Homo sapiens: one gene and its partners. The protein of the gene in region 2 interacts with the protein of the main gene of each other region in a pairwise test. Each region holds a gene or a part of one and is shown on either strand. Other genes may lie near its edges.

Region 1 (3,748 bases), on a different chromosome or scaffold from region 2:
AGGTGGGTAGATCACGAGATCAGGAGATCAAAACCATCCTGGCTAACACAGTGAAACCCCATCTCTACTAAAAATTCAAAAATTTAGCCAGACATGGTGGCACTCGCCTGTAGTCCCAGCTACCCAGGAGGCTGAGGCAGGAGAATCGCTTGAAGGAAGCGGAGGTTGCAGTGAGCTGAGATTGTACCGCTGCACTCCAGTCTGGGCAACAGAGCGAGACTCCATCTCAAAAGAAAAAAAAAAAAGAATACAGGAGGATGTGCAGAGGTTATATGCAAATACTACACCATTTTATATCAAGGACTTGAGCATCCATGGATTTTGATATCCTCAGGGGTCCTGGAACCAATCCCTCTCAGATACCTAGGGACAACTATATTATGTGCCTGTGCTGTATGTGTAACATCTTCTCAAAAGTTACATTGTCAAGCTCATTCCTCCTGATCATAATTTCTCAGTTCTTATGATGGGATATGGTTTTTATAGTGATAAGATGTGAAATGTATTAAACTGTGAAAATGTAATCAGTGATTTCTGGGGGGGTTGTATGTGTGTTTACCATTCTATCACTGGATCAAAATATATGCCTTTGAACTAAGGTGAGACATCCATAGCCTGGTCCTCTGTTGCCAATGGCAAGATAGAGTTAGTAAAATATTCTAAGATTCACAGTGGGGTGGTTCTTTAATTTATTTTGATTTTCATGACTGTGTATACGAAGGATAGAGATGCTTTTTAGGAATGCCTAGGTTTCTGACTTTTAGTTGATGTGTTAAATTATACATTCGAGCAATCTGGTATTGGGTAACTGTCAAATTTTGATACTTACAGAAGTAGGCAGATGAGTAGTTATTTGGTTTTGTGGTAGCCCAAGTTACTGAGTGAGCTGCTAGGATAATTCTTTGGCTACTAAGTTCCAGGCCATACTTGAGAGTCCAGGCCCACATTTAGATTTTTTATTTTGAAGGATTAAGCCATGCAGTAGTGGTAGCTATGGGTTACAGCGAGAAACCCCTACCTCAATATCTTTTATGGCTATGTTTCCAGTGACTTCAATGAGCCTTCTAGCCTTACTAGTACTTATCTAATTATTTTATCTTTTAAAAAAATATTTTAGCCAACATTTAATTCAAAAGAAAGGTTGAAATGTAGCCTACTCATGGAAAATATTGTCTATAATTCTATTTCTTTAGCATACTGAGTCTCCTGCATCTTGATGCTATATTTAGATATAATCAATGTTCTACAATGGGAAAACTTAGTAGAACATTGGGCATGTGTGTGTGTGTGTGTGTGTGTGTGTGTATGTGTGTGTGTGTGTGCATGTGTGTCTCAATGTATATTTAAATAAAATTTGCCATTCCAGCCATTTTTTAAGTATTCAGTTCAGTGGCATTAATTATATTAACAGTGTTGTGCAGCCATCACCACTATTTCCCCATTCCTCCTCCCTCAGCTTCCAGCCCCTGGTAACCTCTATTTTACTTTCTATCTCTCTGAATTTGCCCATTGTAGATATTTTATGTAAGTGGAATCATACAGTACCTGTCTGTTTGTGTCTGGCTTATTTCACTTAGCATGATGTTTTCAGGGTTCATCCATGTTTTCGCATGCTTCATTCCTTTTTACGGCTAAAGAAAATTGTGTGTGTGTGTGTGTGTGTGTGTGTGTGTGTGTGTGTGTGTGTATGTACATACTGCATTTTGTTTATGCATCTGTTGATAGACATTTAGGTTGTTTCCTCTTCTTGGCTATTGTGAATAATGCTGCAACACACTGGGCATTTTGATCTGTGGTATTTGGCGGTCTTTGGCATATTTTTAAATAAAGAAGCATTGTTTATATGTTTCTTTGCTATAAAATATGAAATATTTTCATTGTCTTAATAAAAGACAGAAGCAAAGCCTCTACTTATATGTAATGAAAAGATAAAATTAAATGTAGTGAGACTATGTCATCAAACTTTATCGTGCCTCCTAACCGCTTTATCAGTATGAGAGTATTTCCCCAGAGAAGGCTGGACATATCATCATCAGCCCCCAAACCATCCTGTTTATAAAGCATGGCAGGCAATTATGCTTCCCCCAACCCCAGAAAACTAAAAGAAAAACTTTTGGTTACTCTGTAATCTTTGAAAAGAAAAAATTAATAAGGTATTGCTTTATAAGATTTAATCTTAGATGTTCTGAAGAATACTTTTTCTTCTTTTTTTAAGAATTAAGTTTTAACTCAGGTAATTTTTACTACACCTTTTTTTTTCTTCAAAAGTCACATAAGTCACTTTTTTTTTTTTTTTTTTTGAGATAGAGTCTCTGCTCTGTCGCCCAGGCTGGAGTGCAGTGGCACTATCTCGGCTCACTGCAACCTCCACCTCCTGGGTTCAAGTGATTCTTCTGCCTCAGCCTCCCTAGTAGCTGGAACTACAGGCGCCCGCCACCACCCCTGGCTAATTTTTTTGTATTTTTAGTAGAGATGGGGTTTCACCATGTTAACTAGGCTGGTCTCGAACTCCTGACTTCAGGTGATCCACCCGCCTCGGCCTCCAAAAGTGCTGGGATTACAGGCATGAGGCACCACGCCTGGCCAAGTCACTTCTTATAGATGGTTTCACAGAATATTTCCTTCACTTTTTGGAGACTGTTTAGCTTTCCAAGTATTTTCAATCATAACTCATATTTGGTGGTTCATATGCTGAAATATTACAATTACACAAAGATGATTATTTTACCTTGTTACTGTACACATAGATTGCTTCTTCTTATTTTTATTTTTTCGCTGGTTATTGTCTCTTGATTAATACATAAAGATCTATGCAACTTGGCCTGGTGCAGTGGCTCACGCCTGTAATCCCAGCACTTTGGGAGGCCGAGGTGGGCTGATCACTTGAGGTCAGGAGTTCAAGACTAGCCTAGCCAACATGGCAAAAACCCATTTCTACTAAAAATATAAAAATTAGCCGGATGTGGTGGCGTGCACCTGTTGTCCCAGCAACTTAGAAGGCTGAGGCAGAAGAATCTCTTGAATTCAGGAGGCAGTTACAGTGAGCCAAGATCACACCACTGCACTCCAGCCTGGGCGACAGAGTTAGACTCTGTCTCAAAAGAAAATGAAAAAGAAAAATCTGTGCAACTTGTGTAGTAATTTCATTTATACAGTCTTCAGTCATGGGTTGTCTACAAACTTCATCAATAAACAAATGAGCTTGCCCTTCAGGGTTGCCCTTCTGGGGCCAAATGTGGGCTCTGAGACAGCCACATTCTGGTAACCCGCCGGATGATTTGGGTGTTTTAGCTGGCGGAGGCAGTGACCTCAGACTCTGGACGGTGAACGGGGATCTCGTTGGACATGTCCACTGCAGGGAGATCATCTGTTCCGTGGCTTTCTCCAACCAGCCTGAGGGAGTATCTATCAATGTAATCGCTGGGGGATTAGAAAATGGAATTGTAAGGTAAGAGGAATTTGGATTCTCTTTTTTTGATTTCATTCATAAGGACACAGGAGTTTCAGAAATTAATTTTTAATATCTAGGCATATTAATATTCAGTATTTAGAGATTTAAACTCACCTTGGGGTGTAGGTTCTTTAGTTATTCCTGTTTTATTTCTAAATAATAAAGATAGCTTTAGCACAGTTTTGAAGTTTTATGTTAACTATAAAAGATTAACAGTATGGAAGTATACAAAGTTAAAAGTTCTCTTATTCCCACATCTACCCCCTGCAAACTCCCTAGAGGGAACTACTGTTAATT
Region 2 (3,748 bases):
CCCTGTGGAGAGAGTCATCGTTCCCCTTGGAGAGGGGTGGGGACTCCAACTCTCAGAGGCCTGGGGGTGCACCCCAGCCCCCACAGCCAAGGGCGGTGCTGCTGTTTGACCTCAGGTTTGACCTGAGCGCTGCTGTTTGACCTCAGGGATCCCCCGCATTTGCTGCCATGCTGGCAGTACCATCCTCCTCAGCTCAGAGTGACTGTGTCTCTGCCCAGGCTCTTCCTGGGAGCCAAGGGAGGCCCTGCTGCCGGCAGCTCTCAGCCCACCTAACCCTGCCTCTCTCACCCATTCCTCCACCCCAGCCTCACCCCCAAAGGCCTGAGCCCAGCCATGTCGCCAGCCCTACAGCGCCTTGTGAGCAGGACGGCCAGCAAGTACACAGACCGGGCCCTGCGGGCCAGCTACACACCATCCCCAGCACGCTCCACCCACCTCAAGACCCCGGCCAGTGGGCTGCAGACCCCCACAAGCACACCGGCGCCTGGCTCTGCCACACGCACCCCTCTCACACAGGACCCGGCCTCCATCACGGACAACCTGCTGCAGCTCCCTGCCCGGCGCAAAGCTTCGGACTTCTTTTAGAGCCAGGCCTGGGCTGGGCTCATAGACGCTTCACAGAGCCTGCAGGGCAGCTGTACACCCAGCAGAGGACTCCAGCCTTCTCGGGGCCCAGGCCTGGGCCAGAAGCTGTTGACCATACCAGGAGTCACTGGAGAAAGGGGCTGTGCTGGGGCCAGACTGGCACAAGGCACTCGTGCCCACACCACACCCCAGGGCCTTGCCAAGCTGTTTGCTGTTTAATTGGCCCCTTGAACTGTCATTAAAGAACACCTAGGTACAGTCTGGGGGGTTGCCTCTCCATCTTGCTCCCCACACGAGCCCTAGCCTTGCCCTGGGGCCTGCATCACGTCTCAGGACTGCGGGGCTTGAAGCGAGGGGCCCCCCAGGTGAGGAAGCTGCAGGTGGGGCGGCTGTGGGAGCACCGGGTGACTGGCGTTGCTTTCTGCGGCACTCGGAACCTGTGTTCTGAGTTGAGCTCACATCCTGCAGTGCTTTCTGCTTCTCTGGGGGGATATGAAGGAGAAACGGAGCCCTTGGAAGTTGTACCCTTAGGTTCCCCTGCGGTTCTGGGCCCAGGTCTGCAGCCTCCACTCTGGGCTTGCCGGCTGTGAGGTGCGCTGGTTATAGGACTGTGTGGGGGCTGCATATCAGGTGATCTCAGCTATCACCTTCTCCCAGCACCTGGCTTCCAGCTCATGGGGTGGGACTATCCCACTCACCCCTCTGCTATAGGCACTGCCCATCTTATGCTGCTGGCCCTGGCCTCACCTGGTCACTTCCACCAACAGGAGCTCCCAGATAACAGTGGGTTGCTGGACAGATCAGGCTGGGACTCTTAAGGGGTGGGGGACGTGGGGCCTTCAGTGCTTTATCCCCTAGGAAAGGGTGCACGTTATCCCAAGGGAGCCCCCAGGAAGTGGGGAGGGAGGGGGGAGGAGCATGTCTAGGTGCTGACCACCTGGAGCACTTGGCCAGCAAGTGGGCCGCATGCTTTGGGAGCAATGGGTGACCCAGCAGGAAGCACAAAAGACCGGCCAGTGTGCCATCATCAAGGGCTGCTGAGCAGCTTGAAGAGCCACTGGGTGGGGAGGGCACACGGGGAGGTCTCAGCTGGGGCTGCCCCTGGAGGACAGGGCAGGGAACTTGAGGGCTGAGGACAGAAATCTCACATGACTCCAGGAAATAGAGGAAGAGGAGGATGCTGAGCGAGGGATTGTGAGGGAGTGGGGGTAGGTCAGAGGGGGCTGAACTGCAGGAAGCCAGGGGGAGTCGTGGACCACTGGAGCTGGCCAGCCCCAGGGCATTGGGGACAAGGCCAGGTCAGAGGGAGACAGTGTGGGCCTGGTGGGTGGACCCTGGCAGAGGCCCTCTTGTCCCCCACAAGGCCAGGCCACACTGTGATTCTGCCTGTACCTGAGCATCTGTCCTGTGCTCCTAGGCCGGAGACCACTGTGTGTCAGGTGGGGCGGTTGGCTGAGTCCCAGAGAAAAACACTCCTCACTGGGCACTCTTGATGCTTGCACACACCCTGTGGTTTATTTGGTGGTCAGTAAGGAACGTCTTTGCTGCTAAGTGGAAGAAAGCTAATGGAACGTAATCAAAATAGTGGTTTAATTGACGAATTTTACTTGCACCTGTGCCTTCTTCAGATCCTACCTGCCTACTTAGTTTACGTGAAGGCCGACTGCACCATGCCCCCCAACCCCGACCCCCACCACACACAACGGGGCCATTGTCATGCTAGGTGCTTGCTTTCCCCACCTCAGCTCCGGAGATGTGATGGTCTTTGGCCCTGGAGGTCTCGGCCAGCCTGTCCTCCATCCTGTTCTCGTTCTCGGGCACCACCAGCAGCCGGTGCTGGGTTTTGGCTCCAAGCTTGTGGTCGGGCCGGTGGTCGGGCCTCAAGCCTGTCTTGGTGTCCAGTTTGCACTCAGCGCGGTACTTGCCCTCCCCCTCCCTCTTGAAGGAGGCAGAAGACGTGGCTTTGGGCTTGGGGGGCTGCAGCCACGAGTGGCTGAGGATCTCATCGATGTGGAGCCGCTGGCTGACGTCGGGCTGCAGCATGCGGTAGATGAGGTCCTTGCACTCGCAGGTCAGGTTCTTGGAGCGCGGGAAGTCCACACGGTGCTCCTTCTGGATACGCAGCATCTTCCTGATGTCGGAGTCGTCATAGGGCATGGAGCCGCAGACCATGATGTACAGGATCACGCCCAGGCTCCAGATGTCATACACCTTGGGCTGGTAGGGGATGCTCTGCAGCACCTCGGGGGCTGCATATGCTGCCGACCCGCAGAAGGTCTTGCTGAGGATGATGCGCCCATTGCTGTCCCGCAGGCAGCGCTTGGAGAAGCCAAAGTCAGACAGCTTGATGTTGAAGTCCTTGTCGAGGAGAAGGTTCTCGCACTTGAGGTCCCGGTGGACGATGTCCAGGTCGTGGCAGTACTTGACGGCGGAGGAGAGCTGTCGGAACATCTTGCGTGCCACGTCCTCATGCAGGGCTCCCTGGCACTTGATGAACTCGAGGAGGTCGCCCTGGACGCCAAGCTCCATGATGATGTAGATCCGTCCGTCAGAGGTCTCAAAGATCTCGTAAGTCTTGATGATGGAGCCGTGGTTGACAGTTGCCAGGATGTCCATCTCCCGAGGAAGGAATCTCTCCACAAAGTCAGTAGGTGTTTTCTTGCGGTCGATGATCTTGACAGCCACATTGAACTTGAGGCGCTCAGAGTAGGCAGATTTGACTTTTGCGTAGGAACCCTTGCCAAGATTGATGCCTACGATGTAACCCTTCTTCCTTAGGACTGTGGCATCGTCCATGGTGCCAGGAGCGACTGGCGCCGCTGCCGTCTACATCCCCCCGTCATGTGGGCCAGCAGGCATTGTCCTCATTTACACTACCGGAGGCGTCTGGCTGGGCTGCCCTGGGCTGGGCTTCGACTCAGGGGTGGAACACTCAGCATTGTCTCCGGGTGACTTCAGCCAATGAACTCATAAAGCCAAGGAGTGGGGGCGGGGACTGGGCTGAGGGAGAACAGGGTCTCTGGAACCGTGGAAGCCAGGCTGGTCTGGCAGGAGCACCCACTCCCCGCCCGCTGGAAGGAAGCCTGTCCCCAGGACAGGACTCTGGTGGCCCTGCTGCTGCTGCATTGGTTTCCCTGTCACAAGTCAAGCTGGAGGGGAGGCG
Region 3 (3,748 bases), 230 kb from region 2:
ACCCAAACCAGGTATTACATGAAAACTATAGACCACAGTTTATCATGAACATAGACAAAAAAATTCTTAACAAGATTTTAGCAAATCAAATCCAGCATACATAAAAAGGATACTACAGCACGACCCAGTAGGATGGAATTCAAGTGACTGTAATTCACTGTAGTAATAGAAAATGATTCACCACGTGATCATCTCAAGAGCTGCCAAAAAGGAAACTGCCAAAATCCAACATCCATTCTTGATAGAAACACACCAATCCTGGAGCAGATGGACACTGCCTGCCTTCTGGGGAAGGGGGCCTTGCCCCGCTAGGAGGAATTTTTGCCACATTAAACCTGCCTCTAATCAGGCTCCTACCAGGAGTCCAGTGTACAGTAAACCCAGAGAGTGGAGAAGCAGGTTAAATGCACGAGGAAGCATTTCCTCTGATAGATCCAGAGCAGGGCATTCTAATTATAGAATTAGACTCTATAAAAAGTCAATGCCACAATAAATGTTGGGGACTGTTCCAGAAGCAAAGAGACCAAAGTAACCAATTGTAGTACATGAACTTGGACTGGATCCTTACTTATAAAGCAACAATTTGCCACAAGTTAGGTACCATGATGTGGCCATGCACTGAAAGTCAGGAGACACCTGGAACAGTTAATTTCTCAGGGGGCTACCCTCTGCAGCTGTGTAGGAGACCGCTCTTGTTCTAGAGCACTTGCTCCCAATCCAAGGCCAAGGTTGACCCCACCACCCAGGTTGTCTGGAGGCATTCTTGGTTTTCACGACTAGGGAGGGTACCCCTGCCATCCTGCAATGCGCAAGACAGCATCTCACCATAAAGACTTACCCAGCCACAAATGTCAGCATGGCTGGGTTGAAAATCCTGGTCTCCAGGAATGCTGAAGACTCTTGGTGAATTCTATGCTGTCACATGTATGTATTTTGGGATGTCAAGAACTAGAGCAAAATGTTAACTACTGAACTTTCGGTGGAGAGCACAAGCGTATGCACTACACTGTCTTTTCAGTTTTTCCAAATGTTTGAACTTTTAAAATAAGAAGTTTGGGAAAAATAAAACAGCAAAGGTGGAAATCTGATGGTGCAGGGGGACCTGCCCTATATAATTTGCAGGAAAGGGCTCCGAAGCCCAGGAAGCATGCGGCTCAAGTGGGAAGCTCTTCTGGTTTGGGAGGGCGCCACAGGAGACAGTGCTTAGGAATTTGATGTGCAACTAGAATGAGGCCCTGCAGGCCTGAGAGGGAACTGACCCTGAAGGGCGCGCACAGCTGTCAACAGACCTCCAACTACCCAAGGGCGCTGCTCACCTGTCAACAGAACTCCAATTACCGGAGGGCAACGCAGTCAGATCTACCACCAGAGTCAGCCTGCCGGCCAACCAAGCACGGAGGCCTAGGGCCATCAGGCCTGGAAGGGGGTGGGGCACAGGGAAGCCCGAACAGGGAGTTTCTGCTAAGAAGGTGGGTGCTGCGCAACTGAAAACAAAACTCGTTGGACACATTGGTCACCAAAAAGGCGCTGTCTCAGTCTCTGCGCCCTTGATTTTGTTAATCTTAGGGACCTCTTCCGAACACTCCCAAGGAAGGAGCCGAGCTGCACAGATACCAAGAGCTGCCGGGAGGCGCCGACCCCGAGGAGGCGGCACCTCCTCCCGCTGCCCCCGCGCACCTCGATGCTCGTTCTGTAGGCGCAGGCGCTGGTTGTACAGGCTCTTTTCGGTGAGGTGCTGGATCTCCAGTAGCCCCTGCACGATTTCGAACACGGTGCCGTCGAGAAGCGCCAGGGCCAGGTCGCTCAGCGTGGTGTAGGACAAGCGCTGCTGGAATGAGCTGCGGGGTAGAGGAGCGCGGTGAGCCCCGGCGGGACACGATGCGGCCTCGGCAGGCCGCCGCCCGCCCCGCCCGCGTACCTGGGCAACTCCTTCACCAGGCTCTGTAACGCCGACAGCAGCTGGTAGTGTCGCTCCTGCTGCCGGGCACCGTCCGCCACCTCCTCCAAGGCGCCCGCGTAGCGCTCCATGGCGCGGACGCCCGCTAGCCGCCGGCTGCAGCGACGAGCGCCCCCAGCTCACGTCATCCCGACCGCGGCGCGTCCCGCCCCTTTTATGACAGTCCCTAGCGCAGCGCGCCCCGCCCGTCTTAGGACAGTCCCCGATCGCGGCGCGCCTCGCGCCTTCCCCGCCCCACCACGCGCCCCGCCCCTTGCGTCATTCAGAAGGAGACGCGCCCCGTCCCTCCGTGGTGGCTGCAAGGAGGGTTTCGCTCAGCTGAGGCTCATACCTTCCTGCTCCCCGGGCCACTTTAGAGGCGAGACTCCGTCGCCTGGATATCGCAGGACCATGTAGAATCCCACCGGCCCTTGCTGAGTCATTGCGGGCTGAGGTCCGGGCTCCGCGCCGGCGCGCCTGCGAGGTGGACTGTCCCGGTCACCGGCCTTCCCAGAGGGAGGGGTCTCGGGCCAGAGCCCACAGGACCTGGGTCTAAGGCACCATCGCGGCCGAGCAGTGGTGTTGGGGTCTGTCTGCGTCCTCTCTGCCCCCGGAGTGAGACAGACAAGACCACCCTAGAGCCTCTGGGCCAGGAGAGTTGGAACCGGAGTCCCCATCTGGGCCTGCCGTGGTCGCCCCGGGGTGCCCAGCCCCCAGCCGGAACCGCGAGCCCAGACTGCCCTCTCCCCGCTCCCCAGACCAGCTGCTGGGCCGGGGCTGGGGAGCTTCTGGTGGCTGGTGTGGGCGGCAAGCCACCCAGGCGCTGAGGCAAGAGACCGAGGACACGAGCTGTTCCAGTATAATAAAATATAAAACAAGAATAGTTATACCAGATATAGATCTTAGATATGATTATATATGAATATCAATAATCATTAGTTGGTAGCAATTACTCTTTATTCCAGTATTATAATAATCCTCACTCTATAATCATAACCTAGGAAAAACCAGGCCATACAGAGATAGGAGCTAAGGGGACACAGTGAGGGGTGACCAGAAGACAAGAGTGCGAGCCTTCTGTTATGCCCAGACAGGGCCACCAGAAGGGCTCCTTGGTCTAGCGGTGACGCCAGCGTCTGGGAAGATGCCCGTTGCCAGGTGGGCCGTGGTCTAGCGGTAGTGAAAAGTGTCAAGGAACAACACCTGCTACTTAGCAGACCGGGAAAGGGAGGCTCCTTTTCCCCGGGGGAGTTTAGAGAAGACTCCGCTCCTCCACCTCTTGTGGAGGGCCTGACATGAGTCAGGCTTGCCTGCAGTTATCCGGAGGCCTAACCATCTCCCTGTGATGCTGTGCTTCAGTGGTCCCGCTCCTAGTCTGCCTTTATTATGCCTAGTCATCCTGTACACCTGGCTCTGCCTTCTAGCTAGCAGTAGTCAATTAGTGAAAGTACTAAAAGTCTCTGATATGCAGAAATAATGGCATAAGCTATCTTTCTCTCTGTCTCCTCTCCCTCTCTGCCTCGGCTGCCAGGCAGGGAAGGGCCCCCTGTCCAGTGGACACGTGACCCACGTGACCTTGCCTATCATTGGAGATGACTCACACTCTTTACCCTGCCCCTTTTGCTTTGTATCCAATAAATAACAGCGCAGCCAGACATTCGGGGCCACTACCGGTCTCCGCGCTTTGGTGGTAGTGGTCCCCCGGGCCCAGCTGTCTTTTATCTCTTTGTCTTGTGTCTTTATTTCTACACTCTCTCGTTGCGGCACACGGGGAGAGACCCACCGACCATGTGGGGCTGGTCCCTACAGGCT

The links.
Region 1: the proteins of ESS2 (region 2) and LYST interact in a two-hybrid assay, tested with the Homo sapiens proteins (one study listed by BioGRID).
Region 3: the proteins of ESS2 (region 2) and DGCR6 interact in binary tests that used the Homo sapiens proteins (3 or more experiments, as listed by UniProt).

The regions. Positions count from the first base shown.
Region 1 is NC_000001.11:235,664,165-235,667,912, reverse strand, and holds part of LYST (lysosomal-trafficking regulator), read left to right. Parts: intron 1-3,291; coding exon 3,292-3,448; intron 3,449-3,748. UniProt on the Homo sapiens protein: Adapter protein that regulates and/or fission of intracellular vesicles such as lysosomes. Might regulate trafficking of effectors involved in exocytosis.
Region 2 is NC_000022.11:19,131,033-19,134,780, reverse strand, and holds part of ESS2 (splicing factor ESS-2 homolog), read left to right. Parts: intron 1-305; coding exon 306-585; 3' UTR 586-2,304; coding exon of another isoform or gene 2,305-3,381; 3' UTR 3,382-3,748. Other genes in the region: TSSK2 (testis-specific serine/threonine-protein kinase 2), read right to left, coding at 2,305-3,381. UniProt on the Homo sapiens protein: May be involved in pre-mRNA splicing.
Region 3 is NC_000022.11:18,904,655-18,908,402, reverse strand, and holds the start of DGCR6 (protein DGCR6), read right to left. Parts: upstream 2,084-3,748; 5' UTR 2,029-2,083; coding exon 1,919-2,028; intron 1,839-1,918; coding exon 1,678-1,838; intron 1-1,677. UniProt on the Homo sapiens protein: May play a role in neural crest cell migration into the third and fourth pharyngeal pouches.